2 separate regions of the Homo sapiens genome follow, and region 2 is linked to region 1. Evidence: fine-mapped expression QTL. Tissue or cell type: monocytes. Region 1 holds a variant in brackets; the other region holds the start of a gene. All regions are shown on one strand. Distances are from middle to middle.

Region 1 (8,100 bases):
CGACATCATTTAAAAGCATATTTAATTCATCCTATAGAAGGAAATGCAGAAGATGGAATGAGAAAGCTTTGTCTCTCTCTGATACAGAGAGAAGATAGACCAGGAGAAGAGATGGAGTTTTAGCTCTTCTTTCTCATTTTGTACACAAAGAAACAGAGGCCTGGACTGGGTCAGGGCCTTGCTTGAGTCAGTATCCAGGCTGAGACTTCATCTTTGGCCTCCCAGCCATGTCTAGTCAGGAGATTTTGTTAGTCTAGATGGATTCTATGTGACATCCATGAGATTCTGCCCTGCCTCAGGCTTTGGACAGTGAGAATAGAGGCTCAGAGATGGATTAGGGGCATAGGAATGGGAGGGAGAAGTTTGTCTCCAGAAAGTCTGGGGAGTGTCTATCACAGAAAAGTGCATGTAGAATGTATGACTAGAACAGAGAGCAGAGATGCACTTGGTCTTTGCTAAGACTCGGCTCTGTTCCAGAGTGGCCACCAGGTGGCACTCCCACCACAAGCCCAGTGCCACGTTGGCCAAGTTTGGGGCTTGGGGCTAAGGATGTTGCTGATTTGTCTGTGGAAGGCACAGGACCTGTAGTGTTTTCAGGTGAGCTGAGTGCCCTGCTAGAAGGAAAAAAAATCTGTCTCTTCTCTGCTGACTGAATATTCCTCTTTGGATTTTTCCTTTGTCTTACTTAACTTGGCTGGCCCTACTTAGATCTTAGCAATTTAGGTAGGGTTGATCAGATAAAAATGCACGTAGAATGATTAGGATAGAAAGCAGAGATGTAGGCATGGGATGCTGCTGGGAGCACGACCCTCAGGGCTAAGAAGGTGGTGGCAGTTCTGAGAAGTTCTCCATTCACAGTGGGCTGAACTGATGTATGGAAGGTGGTGATCTCTGAACTGGTCTAGGAGGAAGAGGCAGGCACTTGAGGGGAATGTCCTGGCTGAGGTTTGGAGGCAGGCAGAGCACTGAGGGGAGGGTGAGGCATGGCCTGGGCAGCCTGAGAAGTGTCTTCTTGGCACTCCTTGCCTGACATGGTCTGCCAAGAGTTGGGCCAGGTATAGTGACTGTCGTGCCTGTGCCTGTGAGATAGTCACAGTGGGCACATGGTATGTTGGGGGTCCCAGATATGGGCCCCAGACCTGTTTTTATTTGCCCATATCCATCCTCCTTAACTTTTGAATTATTTGCCAATATTTTAAAAGAGAGAGTTTCAACAAAGAGTCAATTTTCTTTTCTTTTTTTTGATGGAGTCTCGCCCTGTCACCCAGGCTGGAGTGCAATGGCGCAATCTCAGCTCACTGCAACCTCCACCTCCCAGGTTCAAGTGATTCTCCTGCCTCAGCCTCCCAAGTAGCTGGGATTACAGTTGCGTGCCACCATGCCCGGCTAATGTTTACATTTTTAGTAGAAATGGGGTTTCACCATTTTGGCCAGGCTGGTCTCGAACTCCTGACCTTGTCAGATAAAAATGCATGTAGAATGATTAGGACAGAAATCATTGACCTTGTGATCCACCCACCTCGGTCTCCCAAAGTTCTGGGATTACAGCCGTGAGCCACCACCCCTGGCCTCTTTTTTCTTTTCTTTTCTTTTTTTTTTTTTTGAGACAGAGTTTCACTCTTGTGTCCCATGCTGGAGTGCAGTGGTGCGATCTTGGTTCACTGCAACCTCCGCCTCCTGGGTTTAAGTGATTTTCCTGCCTCAGCCTCCCAAGTAGCTGGAATTACAGGCGCTCGCTACCATGCCCGGCTAATTTTTGTATTTTTTAGTAGAGATGGGGTTTCACCATATTGTGCAGGCTGATCTTGAACTCCTGACCTCAGGTGATCCACCTGCCTTGGCCTCCCAAAGTGCTGGGATTACAGGCATGAGCCACCGTGCCCAGCCCTCAATTTTCAGCTTCTCTTGAAAATCATACTACCTTTCACTACTGGGTTTACTTCTTCATGGTTCCATGGGCTGGAGCTGAGTCGAAATTGCCTTATAGACAGCACAGGGTTCTGCAGACCCCAGCCCACCCACTCCCCTCGTTCTCATCAGTTCCAAGTCTCTGCCCCCTGCAATAGGTAGTAATGGTGGTAGGCAATAGGAATTGTTGCTGCTGTTAGTAGCCAGGAGGTCTGAATGGCCACCAAGCTCTGAGGCCTCAAAGAAGGGGTGGGATCTAGCATGGAGGGGGCTGTTGGGGATTGAATGCCCTCTGAGAGCTACTTCTAATCCTAAGAATTGGGATTCTTGGATCATCGTATCTGTGAAAGGAAGTGAACTGTGTGTGGGTGACCTCACGTCTGCATATGTTATCTCCTCACGGAATCCTTCTATCTCCCACAGGCCTCTTGTTTGAGGTGGGTCACTCCTGTGAAGGCCATGTGTAGCCATGGAATCAGGGCTGAGGAGGAGGTCAGATAACTCTGGAGAATGGAAGGATGAGTTAAGTTGGACCCTGAAAGGTGAGAGGCTTTAGTTGGAATGTTGGGGGGATTGCCCGGGGCTTCTGCCACTGCTTCAAGACCATGAATCTCAGGTCTGTGTGTATCCATTTCTTTCATTCCAAAAGGAGCCTTCTTGGATTGGGCTGTGCCTCAGCTGTCCATGGGGCTCAGGAAGTGATCCTTCTCAAGGTATTTTTCTTATCGATAGAAGCCCTGCATCATTTCTTCCTCCCTCCCCTGAATGTGGAATCATGGAGAAGGGAGGGACAAGAATGTGCCTCCCCATCAGACGTGTCAGCATCCACATGTGTTGCTTCCTCTGCTGGTCCACTTCCCATCACTGGCTGTGAGTGGGAATTGTGCCCCTGTTCTTGGTCCAGGCTCAAGAGCCAGCCTTGGCCTCCAATGAGGCAGGCAGGCCTCTGACACCACCTATACCATTCTGACTTGATTTTCCTATGCTGCCTGAGGCAGGAAAGTCCATGCCTAAACTCTGGTCATAGTGCCTGCCCCACAGTCTAGCTGCCTTTCCCTTTATAAAGTTATTGCCTCAAGTCATGGGCTTAGTTCTCTCCTCCCCTGGCTGCCTGCAGCCAACCGAGAGAGTGGGCTGCCATCTCGCCTGGCCCTTTGTCCCCAGGTTGGCTGGCTTGTGGGGAGGATGGTCTTAAGTACTACTTCCTTCCCCCCTACCCCCCAGTCTGGAAAAAAAATTATCTGGCATCTACCCCAGTTTCCATCTGCTACTCTGTTGATTGGGAGATTGAGCCCATTCCCTGGTCTGCCCTCCTACTCAGCACCTGGTGACCTGGGCCCTATCTAGGTCCTTCTGGGGATGGTTTGGACCCAGACTTCAGCCACAGACAGGAGGCAGCAGTGCCAGGGTACATCACACAGAGAGAAGTCAAGGGTGTGGGTCCTTGAGAAACC[A/C]CCTGAGTTTCAATCCGTCCTGCCTCTAGTTGTGCGATCCTGGCACTTCACATCCCTTGTCTGTGCCTTGATTTCTTCATTTGTAAAGGGAGGTGACTAATAGCTCCTATCTCATAGGAGTGCGAAGATTGAATGAGTTGGGAGAGGCTATGAGATGGCACAGCACATAGGAACCACAGTGTTAGCAATTGTTATTGCAGTCAGAAAACCCATCTTCGTTCTACCATTTACCGGTTGACCTCGGGCAGGTCCGTCCTTGTCCCTCCCTGTACCTCAGTTTTCTTCTCTGCAGTGGAGTTACGCTCCCTCCCTCAGTGAGAGGAAGAGAGTGGAGGACTGGCAGAGATGAGGTAGGTGAATGTGGGTTATGTGTTGTGAGTTGCCATGCACATGGGCAGTGTTATCATTGATTTTGAATCCATTTGAATTCTTAGTTCCAAAAGGCAGAGACAGGTGATTTCTTAGTTTGCCCTAGCTTTGCATAGAGAGGACAGACACTGAGGGCAATACCTGTCTAGCAGGTGAAACCGAATGTCCATCTTAGAGGCTGGCCTGGGCCAGGCTCCACTGCTGGCTTCAGGGCCACAGGCTTAGGTGCAGGCCTGAGGAGGAGCTCTTAGACTGTCCACAGCCTCCCTCTCTGGGGCAGTGTGCCCCTGTGTATCAGGAGGCTGTTGGCTTCACCCAGTGGGCCAGGAACCTCACTCTGCACTGTCTCTGGAGGTACCTTGAGTTTACCTTCCTGGCCTGCTGGGGTGCCTCAGGACTCTGAGGGAAGAAGGAGGGGACAACTGGAAGCAAAATGTAGAATGGTAAAGCCAAACTTCTTGGTAGCAAAACTTTCCTGGTTCCAGGAGGTAAAAACAACAACCAAATGGTCCTGGCCCCATGGAGCAGGGCAGAGGGCAGAGGGCAGCCAGCCCACCGCCTTTGCTGGTGTCTGCAGTGCGTGAATCGTGTCTAGGTCTGTGAGTTCTGAAGGTTGGATGTTCACCTCTACTCCTTCCTCGGCCTGTCTCCTCTCAGTGCAGCTAGACATCCAGTAAACACTAGATAAGTACTTACTGAGCTGGGTGGATTTTCCATTCATGGTTCCCTGGGGCACAAGTGGAAGTGGTAGGTCTGGGCCCTGTCTGGTCTAGAGAGAGGAGACCCTTTTACAAAGGGCAGGCACGTAGTTCTGAGAGGAGGAGCTGATGGCAGAGCTGGCTGGACTGCTCAGGTAACTGCAGAGGGTCTGGGCCTGGACCCCCCAAGGGAGTCCCCACTGAATGGTCAGGTTGCCTGAGATAGCTGAGCCCTAGGCACTTTGCGGGCAGAGATCCCCTTAAGCTGCTTTGACCCTCCCTCCCCCACAGTGAGTGGGGCACGGGGGATGCTCCCCTCTCTACTTGGGGAAGGGGCCTTCCTAATTATATCCCCCTCCACTCACATGGAAATGAGTTTGGATTTTCTGAGCGTACACCAGCTGGCTTGGGGGGAGGCAGCCCAGAAGGCTGCTGGCTGGGAAAGGGAGGAGAAAGGAGAGGGAGGGGAAGGAGCCAGGCCAAGATGAAAAATTTCCAGTGTTCTCCCAGGCAAAGCAACAGCGGGTCCCTGAGTGCTCCCCACATATCATCGTTGTGCCTGCTGGTAGGCTCAGCAGGGAGCCGTGTCCACTTAGGCGAACGCATCCTCCGAGGACCATAGTCCTCAGGGTGCGAACCACTTAGCTGGCCATAGCAAGGTTGTTGGGTGTTGGACTCCTCTGCGCCCTTGGAGAGAGGTCCTCCACGACTTCTACGCCAATCTTTTTACGGGGTGCGGGGAGTGGAACTGAGGCCCAGAGAGGGGATAGGGCCTGCCGCCCCTGGCAGAAGACCACAAGTCTGGCTTGTCCGCAGCTGGGCTTTCCCCGTAGAGTTGCCCGGGAGAGGGTGGCGAAGGTTCCCCCAGCAGTTCCGCTCTCGCTCAGGAAAGCCAGTGAGGCGAGAAAAGGCTGCGAGGGGCGGGGGGAGGGGCGGGGTGGGGTCAGCGCTGGCTCCGCCTCCTGGCGCTTGGGTCTGCCTGCGGCCGGGCGCTGGCTCAGTCTCGGCTGATTGCCGCTGTCGCTCCCGGGGCCACGGGATGACGCCTCCTCCGCCCGGACGTGCCGCCCCCAGCGCACCGCGCGCCCGCGTCCCTGGCCCGCCGGCTCGGTTGGGGCTTCCGCTGCGGCTGCGGCTGCTGCTGCTGCTCTGGGCGGCCGCCGCCTCCGCCCAGGGCCACCTAAGGAGCGGACCCCGCATCTTCGCCGTCTGGAAAGGTAGGCGGCGCCGCGCGGCCGGTCAGGCGCGGGATCAGACGCTGCGCGGGGCGGGTGCGGAGTGTGCTGCACCCGGAGGGAGTGCGTGCGCGCAGCTCTGCGGGTCCCGGGCTGTCCCCGCGCTGTCCCCGCGTGGAGCGTGTGGGTTTGGGTGAGTGTGTGTGAGTGTACACGCTGGCACACCAGAGCCGGCTGTAACGCTGCGGCGAGCGAGCGGCGGGGGCCGGAGCCCCGGCTAAGTCGCACCAAGTCCCTGGCAGCCAGGAGCCGCAACGCCCGGGCGCCAGGGGAGGGGGCGGGCCCCTCTCTCGGCCCCGAGCCACTCTGGGTCCTCTGGCTCGGGGGCTTCGGCGGAGGACCTTTCCCCGCCTGGGACCCCAACCCGGGTACCCTCCTTTTGAGCTGCGGGCTCTGCTGGCGCGCGGGGCGCAGGCTGGGCCGGCAAGGGGGGCGCGGACCCCTTGCCGCCGCCGCCGCGCTTCGGCAGCGGGAACAAAGACCCCGCCGCCTGCCCCCGCCCCCGCCCCGGCCCGGAGCTCGGGCCAGGCAAGGGGGTGGGCATCCTGCAGCGAGCGGCGGGACATGGTGCGGTGCGGCGGCTTGGGGTACCAGGGCGCTGCCTCAGCAATGCCGGGACCGGCCGCTCCCCCCTTGCCCGCACGTGGCAGTTGTCACCAGAAATCGGCTCCAGCGTTGGGGGGCAGTGCCCGTTGGGTGGGGCACGGCCGTTGGGACCCCCAGGCGGTGGATCTAGGGCGGGGGTGCAGCCTTTAGGCCAGGGTAGATAATAAGAACCTGGGGGACTGGAGTCTCCCCCAGGGCACCTCAGTTTAGACCCTGTACTATGGGACAGAAAGCCGGTTAGGCGGGGGTTTGAGGCTTTCTGCCGCGAGGAACTGATCTCCCCTCCCCTGCATTGCACACAAATGCCTCCCCGCCCCCAGTCCGATTCGGCTCTGTCCCCAAATTTGGCGTGTCTGCGGCCCCCCTGTCGTGATGGTGGGGGACTCGCAGTGGGGGCTGGGGGAACTGGTCGGGTCTGGCCCCACCGGGAGCCTTTTGATGCCTTTGGCAGTTTGCAGGGATTGCGGGAGTCTGAGCATTATCTGGGGCAGGTATTATTAGCAGAGGGGAAAAAAAACCATACACAAAACGAGTGGCCCGAACTGCCGCAGTAGCTGAGGGAATGTGACTTGCCCAAGGTCACTGAGCAGTGTGGGAGCCCAGGTGCAGGCAGGGGCTCTGATCTGGCACAGGACCAGTCCAGGTTCTGGGTTAGGGAGGGGAGAAGGATTTAGGTGGTTCAGGGACCATGAATGAGGTGCTCTGGGGACCAGCTCGGCTACCCAGCCTGAGGTGCTCCTGGAGGAAGCCGAGCAGTGCTGCTAGAGCTCCGGCCGCCTGTACATGGAGGAGGCCTGCACACCCCTCTGCCATCCCAGCTCCAGCCCAAGCTTCCTTTGCCCTCCCAGCAGCTTTGCCTTCCCTCAGTCTCCTTGGCTGTCTTGGACATCATAGCGTGTGGGCACTCTGGAGGGGACAAATGGCCACATCTGAGTGTTCTGGAATCTTTCCCTCCATCAAACCCCTTGCATTTTGACTCTGTTTGCCTGTCCCAAAGTCTTCCCATGACCCCCCACCCCCACCCCACTTAATGCACACCCACTTCTTAGCACTTAATGCATACATCCCATCCTGGGCACTTAGTTCCCACCCTGAGGCTATTTAAAGTTGCTTTCAGTCCTCTTACCCACTTTTCGAAGCTCCCAGCACAGCTCCATGGCCTACCCCCCCGCCCGCAGTTCACTGCTGTAGCCACACTGGCTGTGCCCTCTGCTTAGTAATGCACTGTTGAGCCCCGCTGGCTGGGGTCTGCCAACCGTTCACCAGTCTTGTCCAACGACAGTCTGTGGTCTCCTTCACCAGTGCCAGGTGCCCCACTGGCCAGACAGGCCCTGCCATTCACCTGCCCCCCACCCCCAGGGCCACCAGCTGGTGATGGTGTGCCCGACTGACAGCTGCCTCCTGTCTCCTGTGGGGTGACACATGGCAATCGGACAGGAATGGGCTTGGGTAGGACAAACCCAGGAACAGGGTAAGAGGGGGTCTTTCTGGAAGCCTAGAGCTCTGTCTACCAGTGGTGGGTGGGAGTATGGTGGTATCCAGGAATGACAAAATCAGGGATGGTGGTGGTTCTGGAGCCATTTCTCTATGAGGCATAGATGGGGGTTTTAGTTTTGAGTCAGGACAGCTGTGGGGACTGGAATAGGTATGGAAAGTTCTTTATTTTCTGCTGCTTGGATCCCCAAGTTCTAGAGAAAGATTAAAGCAGGGAACTCTGAGAGGGGCCCAGCCTGCACTGATCAGGGAGATTGCTGCCTCTGCAGCTTGATGAAAGTCTGGCACAGCGTAGCTCAGGCCAGGGAGAGAGATGGGCCATCATGTACCTGCTGG
Region 2 (8,100 bases), 260 kb before region 1:
CATTTTAAATATAAAGACATACATAGATTAAAAGTAAAGTGGTGGAGAAGGATATATCATTGATAACACTAATCAAAAGAAAGCAGGAGTAGGTATACTAACTTCAGAAAGAGCAGATTTAGAGAAACAAAAGGTAGGCTGGGTGGCTCACGCTTGTAATCCCAGCACTTTGGGGGGCTGAGGCGGGCAGGTCACCTGAGGTCGGGAGTTCAAGACCAGCCTGACCAACATGGAGAAGCCCCATCTCTACTAAAAATACAAAATTAGCTGGGCGTGGTGGTGCATACCTGTAATCCCAGGTACTCGGGAGGCTGAGGCAGGAGAATCACTTGAACCCAGGAGGCAGAGGTTGCGGTGAGCTGAGATCGTGCCACTGCACTCCAGCCTGGGCAACAAGAGTGAAACTTTGTCTCAAAAAAAAAAAAAGTCATCAGGTTATAAATCTATACAGCAAAACATATACAAGAGCTATATGAGTAAAACTACAAAACTCTGATCAAAGATATAAAAGAATTACATAAATTGAGAAATATTTCATGTTCACAGATAGAAAGAAAATATAGTCAAAATGTCTGTTCTTCCAAACCTGATCTATAGATTCGATGCAATCCCAATCCAAGTATCAGCATATTATTTTTGTGGATGTCGACAAACTGATTGTAAAATTGATATGGAGATACAAAAGACCTAGAAGAGCCAGCTCACTATTAAAGGAGAACAAAGTTGGAGGACTGATACTACCCAACTTCAAGACTTACTATAAACTACAGTAATAATGACAATGTGGTATTGGTGAAAGAATAAACAATCCAGAAGTAGACCCACATAAACGTAGTCAACTGATCTTTGACAGAGGAGTTAAAGCAATATAATGGAGCAAAGATAGGTTTTTCAACAAATTATGTTGGAACAACTGAATTTTCACACACATAAAAATGTATCAGGCCGGGTACGGTGGCTCACGCCTGTAATCTCAGCACTTTGAGAGGCCGAGGTGGGCAGATCAATTGAGATCAGGAGTTCGAGACCAGCCTGGCCAACATGGTGAAACCTTGCCTCTACTAAAAATACAAAAACTAGCCAGGTGTGGTGGCGGGTGCCTGTAATCCCAGCTACTTGGGAGGCTGAGACAGGAGAATCACTTGAACCCAGGAGGCAGACATTGCAGTGAGCTGAGATCGTGCCACTGCACTCCAGCCTGGGCAACAGAGTGAGACTCCGTCTCAAAAAAAAAAAAAAAATTATCTAGGCAAAGACCTTGCACCCTTCATAAAAATTAACTCAGAATGGATTGTAGACCTAAATGTAAAATGGAACACTATAAAACTCCTGGAAGACAACACAGGAGAAAACCTAACTGATCTTGGGAATGGCAATGACTTTAGGGCAATACCAATAGCATAATCTGTGAAAAATATAATTGATAAGCTGGACTTCATTAAAATTTAAAACTTCTGCTCTTCAAAAGAAGAATGAGAAGACAAGCCACAGACTAGGAGAAAATATTATAAAAGACGTATCTGATAGAGGACTGTTATCTACAATATACCCAGAACTCTTAAATCACAACAAGAAAATAACACAATGTAAAAATGGGCAAAATACCTGAATGAACACTTCATCAAAGAAGATATACACATGGCAAGTAAGTATATGAAAAGATGTTCAATATCATATGTCATTAGGGAATTGCATATTAAAACAATAAGATACTACTACACACTTACTTGAACGGCAAAATACTGACACCACAAAACGCTGACAAGGATGTGGAGCAACAGAAACCCTCATTCACTGCTGTGGGAATGCAAAATGATGCAGCCACTTTGAAAGGCAGTTTGGTAGTTTCTCCCAAAACTAAATATACCATCCAATCCAGCAGTTGCACTCCTTGGTATTTACCCAGATGAATTGAAAACTCATGTCTACACAAAAATCTGCACATGATGTATAGCGGCTTTATTCATAATTACCCAAACTTGGAGGCCACCAAGATGTCTTTCAGTAGGTGAATGGATAAACCGCAGCACATCCAGACGATGGAATATTATTATTCAGCACAAAAAAGAAATGAGCTATCAAGCCATGAAAAGACATGGAAGAACTTTAAGTGCATAAGTGAAAGAATCCGATGTGAAAAGGCTGCATACTGTATGATTCCAACTATATGGGATTCTGGAAAAGGCAAAACTATGGAGACAGTAAAAGGAGCAGTGGTTGCCAGTGGTTAGGGGACTGAGAAGGATAAATAGGCAGAGGACAGAGGATTTTCAGGGCAGTGAAACTATCGTGTATGATACCATAATGGTGGATACATGTCATTACATATATGTCAAAACCCACAGAATGTGCAACACCGAGAGTAAACTCTAATGTAAACTATGGACTCTGGGTGATAATGATGTGTCAAAGTTGGGTAATCAATTGTTACCAAATGTACCACTGTAGCACAAGATGTCCATGAGGGGACAAGTTGTGTATGTGCCTGTGTGTACAGGGGATATATGGGAACTCTGTACTTTCTGTTCAGTTTTGCCCTGAACCAAAAACTGCTCTATAAGTGTTCATTAATAACAGTAATTTTAAAAGACAAGGACCCCTTCTGACCTAGGGAATCTCTGGTGATGGAGGGGGAAGGGTGAAGCAGTCCCCTAGAAAGTGTAGATTTTACAAAGTTCTTCAACTGATTTTGTAGAGCTAGGTTTGGAACTGCTACCCTACTCTATGCTATTCGCCCAAGTAGTGGTTCCCAAACCAGGTGTCAGGCTTCAAGGCTGTGCAATATTCCTCATTACACGGTCTTGGCCCTAAACGCATGCTTTCCCGTCTCCCCACAAATCAAGACTCTAAAATGCCAGGGGTAGAAGAGCGGCACTTTCCTGTGTACTGAGTATGGGGGAAGGGAGAGCAGTCAAGCACGGACTGGCTGATTTTAACCCCCAAAAGGGCTGAAGCTGATACGCTTTGAAGATCGACCACGGCAGGAATATCTTGTTTTCTTTAATCCATCAGGGGGTTGTCGCACTTATTAAGTCCCACAGCTGCAGTTTAGCACGGAGGGGCTGTCACGTCACCAGGCCTCCCTGAAAGTCCTCCGCTCCAGCTCTGCGATTGGCGCTGGGGTAACAGGAGGGGAAGCGGGTGCTTTTCATCGAGCCTGCAAGAGGGGGGCCCAGGCATCGAGGCTGGGGAGTCGTGGGTAGAGCCCCGATTCCAGCCAAGACGCCACAGGACATAAGTAAGCGTGGAGGGCAAAATGACTACCCAAGCGCAATTCTGTAAGGCCGAAGGGACGTTCTTCCAACCTCTTAAATTTCCCGGGTGCCACGCCCCTCAATTGACGGCCCTGGATTCCAAGGTGTCGCGCCGGAAGTGACCTCACGGTGGTGGCGTGGAGACGTGGGGGCGCTTCCGGCAGCGGCGGCGGTGGTGAAGGCCGATGCTGTGGGGGTGGGCGTGGAGAGAATTCTTCTGTGGGTCCTCTGGTGTTGAGTGGTCGGCTTGGTGTGGTGTGCGGAGGAGCTCCAGGCCCGTCGGCGCGGAGGTGGGAGCGAAGGGAGGCTACTGGTTTGTGGACGGTCGTGGGAGGGGGCTGCCGGGGTTGCTTTAGGCTTCAGAGTTCCAGGCCTCGTAGACCTTTATAGAGGCAGGCAGGCAGGCAAGAGCTGGGGGCTTCATCGGATGAGCAGGGGACCACGTACTACGGGCGGCCCCAGGAGTTTGGTTTGAGGTGGAAGGCTGAGGACTGCAGGATTCTAAATAGTATGGGGATTGTGTGGGGAGTGAGGCATTAGCTGCTTGGGCCCTTAGTCCAGCCTTGTTGGTGGCTGCTGCAGTTCTTTGGCTCACTCACTCTGTTCTTCGTGCCTCAGTTTCCCTTTGCATAATGAGATACGGTGGCAGAGAAGAACGCCAGTGCCACATCCATGACTGATAGCTTGAGGACGGAGATGAACTGGAGGGTAGAAAAAGAGGATGCCTGAGAAATTTATACCTACCAGGTCACATCTTCGAATCCCAGGAAGTTATCCCTGGATTCATTTCTGCCTTTGATGCAAGTCTGTGGTTCTTTTCAGTACACTTTGTGTGATATTGATTGTATGTATCAATACTTGACTTGCTGAGTGGTTAAAGTGTTTTGGTTTGTGGGAGGCATAGTCCTTGTTGGCTTGGTCAGTTAATTTTCAGTTAATCTCCCAATAGCAATTGCTTCGCCTAACTCTTCAATTGGGAGATTAGTTGAAAATCAACTGACCAAGCCAACAGTCTTCTCCTGTGGTTACAGGTGAGGAACTCGCGACCCAGAATGGTTTTTCTTCTCTTCCTTCGCCACAGACCAAACCGATTTCAGTCTGCTGTCTCAAATACAGGTCTTCACCCCACCAAAACAGAAATGGCTGTCTCCAAGCAGTTTAGTATTTCAACTGGACACCCAGATGGATCCTAATCTTTTTTTTTTTTTTTAATGAATGGCAGATTACGTGTACTGAGCACAAAATCCTCTTAGCTAGTTTCTCTGTATGATGTAAAAACATGACATTTTGTTTATTACCAATTTCTTGGTAGAGCCTCCTTGGCATAGGGCTGTGGGGCTAGAAAAGTGTCTCAAAATTTTTTACCTGTGACCCACAGTTAGATATATTATACATCATGACTTATTGTGCCCCTGCACACTCAGTGTGTACACACACACACACACCAATGAAAAGTTTACTTACCCTTTCTACAGAAGATGCACTCTAAAAAAATATTGGTTGCAACTCACTAAATTGAGTCTGACCCCTAATAGGTCATGACGTATAGTTTGAAAAATATTAAGGCCGGGCACTGTGGCTCACGCCAGTAATCCCAGCACTTTGGGATGCTGAGGCGGGTGGATCACCTGAGGTCAGGAGTTGGAGACCAGTCTGGGCAACGTGGTGAAACCCCGTATGTACTAAAAATACAAAACTTAGCTGGGTGGTGGTGGGTGCCTATAATCCCAGCTATTTGGGAGGCTGAGGCAGGAGAAACGCTTGAACCTGGGAGGGAGAGGTTGCAGTGAGCCAAGATATGCTACTGCACTCCAGCCTGGGCAACAAGAACTAAACTTCTCAAAAAAAGAAAAGAAAAGAAAAATATTAGACTAGGGCCGAGTGCAGTGGTGGGAGGATTGCTTAAGGCCAGCCTGGGCAACATAGCAAGACTCTGTCTAAGAAAAACAACATTAGAAAATGTTTAAAATCCTTGCCATTTGTGAGATTCTGTAATTAATACAAAATGGAAGATGTATCATTTTTCTTTTCTTATCCAGAGAAGGGCTTACTAGAGTTCTCCTAAATTCAGCCAGAACAACAGGACAGGACATCCAAATTGTGGCTCAAAGGAGTGTAGTGACCATAATGATAGTGTGTCAGAATTTTAGCAAGGCATTTATGAAGTTTTTGTTTTTTTTTTTGAGATGGAGTCTCACTCCATTGCCCAGGTTGGACGGAGTGCAGTGGTGCAATTTCTGCTCACTGTAACCTCTGCCTCCTGGTTCAAGCGATTCTCCTGCCTCAGCCTCCCAAGTACCTGGGACTACAAGCATGCACCACCACGCCTGGCTAATTTTTGTATTTTCAGTAGAGATGGGGTTTCACCATGTTGGCCGGGCTGGTCTCGAACTCCCGACCTCAGGTGATCCACTCACCTCAGCCTCCCAAAGTGCTGGGATTACAGGTGTGAGCCACCGCGCCTGGTCTTACTGAGTCTTACTATAACTGAGTGGGCGAGATGGAGGAATTTGCCAGATTGTGGTAGTTAGATGGAGTCATGAGTTTGAAAATCTATGTATGGAGAGGTTTGATTTGTGGACACTACTTACAGCTGGAATTCCGGTGATCTAAACTGGGGTTTCATCACTTTCTTTATATACTTCATGTATTTGAGACCTTATCTAGAAGGTTTGCTTATTGGATTTGGTGCCTTTGTGAAGTAAAGAAAGAGTCATTTGGTTGGTGATTGCCAGAATGGGAAAAGATCTCAATATAATTTGCTCAGTGCTGTTTAATGAAATGAAGGAAGCATGTATAAATGTGAGAAATTGCGCTTGGGTCCAAACAAAATCAACTATACCTATTAGGGGAGGGTGGAGATGTGACCTCACAGGAGTTCTATAATAAAAAGATGTGATGTTTTAATCACCAATCAGTGGTGTGGTTAAGAAGGCTGTGAGAAGAACCGATGTGACCTGCATTAGTATATTGTATCAGGAAAATGCAAAATCTAGAATGAGAAAGGTTGCATCACTGGTAGGCTTGTACCTGGAATATTAGGTTTAGATCTAGATGTGCTAAGAGTAAATTTATGGGCAGAAGTCAAAAGTTTGAAGATATGGTGGTGTTGCTTTGGCATGAATGATTATTTTTCTCCTTGTCATTTCAGGCTTTCAGGTATAGGCTGGGTCACTAGTCTTAAAACATTTCTTCTTGAGAATGTCTAAAAGACTGTGGAATCTGTTAGATCTTATATACTTTTAAGTTGGCACCTGAAACTTTTCATCCTAGATTTACATAGTGTAAGTATTTAATTTTAAATAGTTTAGGATGTAATTTCTGACAAGTAAATATTGACTTCTTAAAAATAAATATAAAATTACCTAAATACAATATCAATTTGATGTTGTAAAAACATACAACTAAACTTTTGAAACAAAGACTGTAAGAAATACATAACATAGCTTATTACATTACTTGATTTTCAGATGTTAAACCCATCTTGCATTTGTGAAATGAACCCTGCTTAGTAATGTATCTACTACTTTTTACATATAGATGGATTCAATTTGCTAACATTTTGTTAATTTTTGTGACTGTGTTCATGATGGATATTGGTCTGAGGTTTCCTTTTTTTTATGTCATCTTTGGCCTTAGTAGCAGGGTAATTATGACCTCATAAAATGAATTGGGAAGTGTTCCTTCCTCCTCTGTTTTCTGAAATAGTTTGTGTAGGATTGGTATTATTTCTTACGTGTTTCATAGAATTTACCAGTGAAGTCCTATGGGCCTGGGTTTTTCTCTCTGGGAAGATTTTACTAATTCAATTTCTTAATATAGTTAGTTGAGTTAGTTTTGGTCATTTTTATCATTTTGGGAGTTTGTCCATTACATATTTTTCCTTTTTCTTTTTGAACTTGTATCCATTCCACTTTTCCCACAGAATTTTATCCTAAAGCAAAAGTCAACTTTCTGTCAAAGGCCAGATGAAAGGCTTTATGGGCCACATGGTTTCTGTGATTACTGCTTAATTCTCACTGTAGTGAGAAAACAGCCATAGACAATATGTGGCCGGGTGCGGTGGCTCACGCCTGTAATCCCATCACTTTGGGAGACTGAGGCAGGCGGATCACGAGGTCAGGAGATCGAGACCATCCTGGCTAACACAGTGAAACCCCGCCTCTACTAAAAAATACAAAAAAAATTAGCCGGGCGTGTTGGTGGGCGCCTGTAGTCCCAGCTACTTGGGAGGCTGAGGCAGGAGAATCGCTTGAACCCGGGAGGTGGAGGTTGCAGTGAGCCGAGATCGCTCCACTGCACTCCAGCCTGGACGACAGAGCAAGACTGTCTCAAAAAAACCCAAAAAAACCCAGAAAATAGCCGTAGATAATATGCAAGTATTTTTGTGTAGTTGTGTTCCAATAAAACTTTATTGGTAGCAGACCAGATCTGGTTTAGGGCTGTAGTTTTCCTACCCATCCTAAAGTAATAAATTTTATGCCTGAAAATTTAAAATTGATCATCTAGTTATCCACACAGATCAGGTTTATGAGAGTAGCATGGAAGTTGATTCCCTTGCTTGCATATCTTTGTGTACCCCCTACGGACATGTGTATTCCAGTGTAAAGACCAGGACTTGATTTCCAAGATGTTGTAGAGGGAATTCATGTATTTTTGTAATTTTGTTTGGGTGAGAAGTGAGGTGGCCCTCACAGCGCCATAACTTAAGTTCCCTATGTGATCGGTATTCTTTCTGGCAAAAGGAGACATTTGAACTAAAATTTTTTATGTTGTAGACACTATATGGATTATCTCATTTAATCTTAAAATAATCCATATAGTATCTTAAAATAATCCATATAGT

Which allele goes with the higher level. Positions count from the first base shown, and alleles are read on the strand shown. Sizes are in standard deviations (SD) of each study's normalised expression.
With allele A in place of C in region 1, the expression in monocytes of the gene that starts at base 3,400 in region 2 is lower (moderate effect, 0.58 SD a copy in Quach 2016).

What was found. PIP is the estimated chance that this variant, and not a neighbour inherited with it, causes the effect.
Region 2: it holds the start of EDC3, and the variant in region 1 is fine-mapped to the expression of EDC3 in monocytes (Quach 2016, PIP 0.91).

Annotation. Positions count from the first base shown.
Region 1 is chr15:74,431,287-74,439,386 of GRCh38, reverse strand. SEMA7A (semaphorin 7A (JohnMiltonHagen blood group)) reads left to right here and starts at 5,429. Exons shown (of 14, transcript NM_003612.5): 1 at 5,429-5,646. The coding sequence starts at 5,469. RefSeq lists silencers at 5,287-5,796, 5,847-5,996, 6,147-6,266. The variant A/C (reference allele first, on the strand shown) is at 3,363.
Region 2 is chr15:74,691,324-74,699,423 of GRCh38, reverse strand. It overlaps EDC3 (enhancer of mRNA decapping 3), which reads left to right and starts at 3,400. Exons shown (of 7, transcript NM_025083.5): 1 at 3,400-3,544. RefSeq lists an enhancer at 3,351-3,440.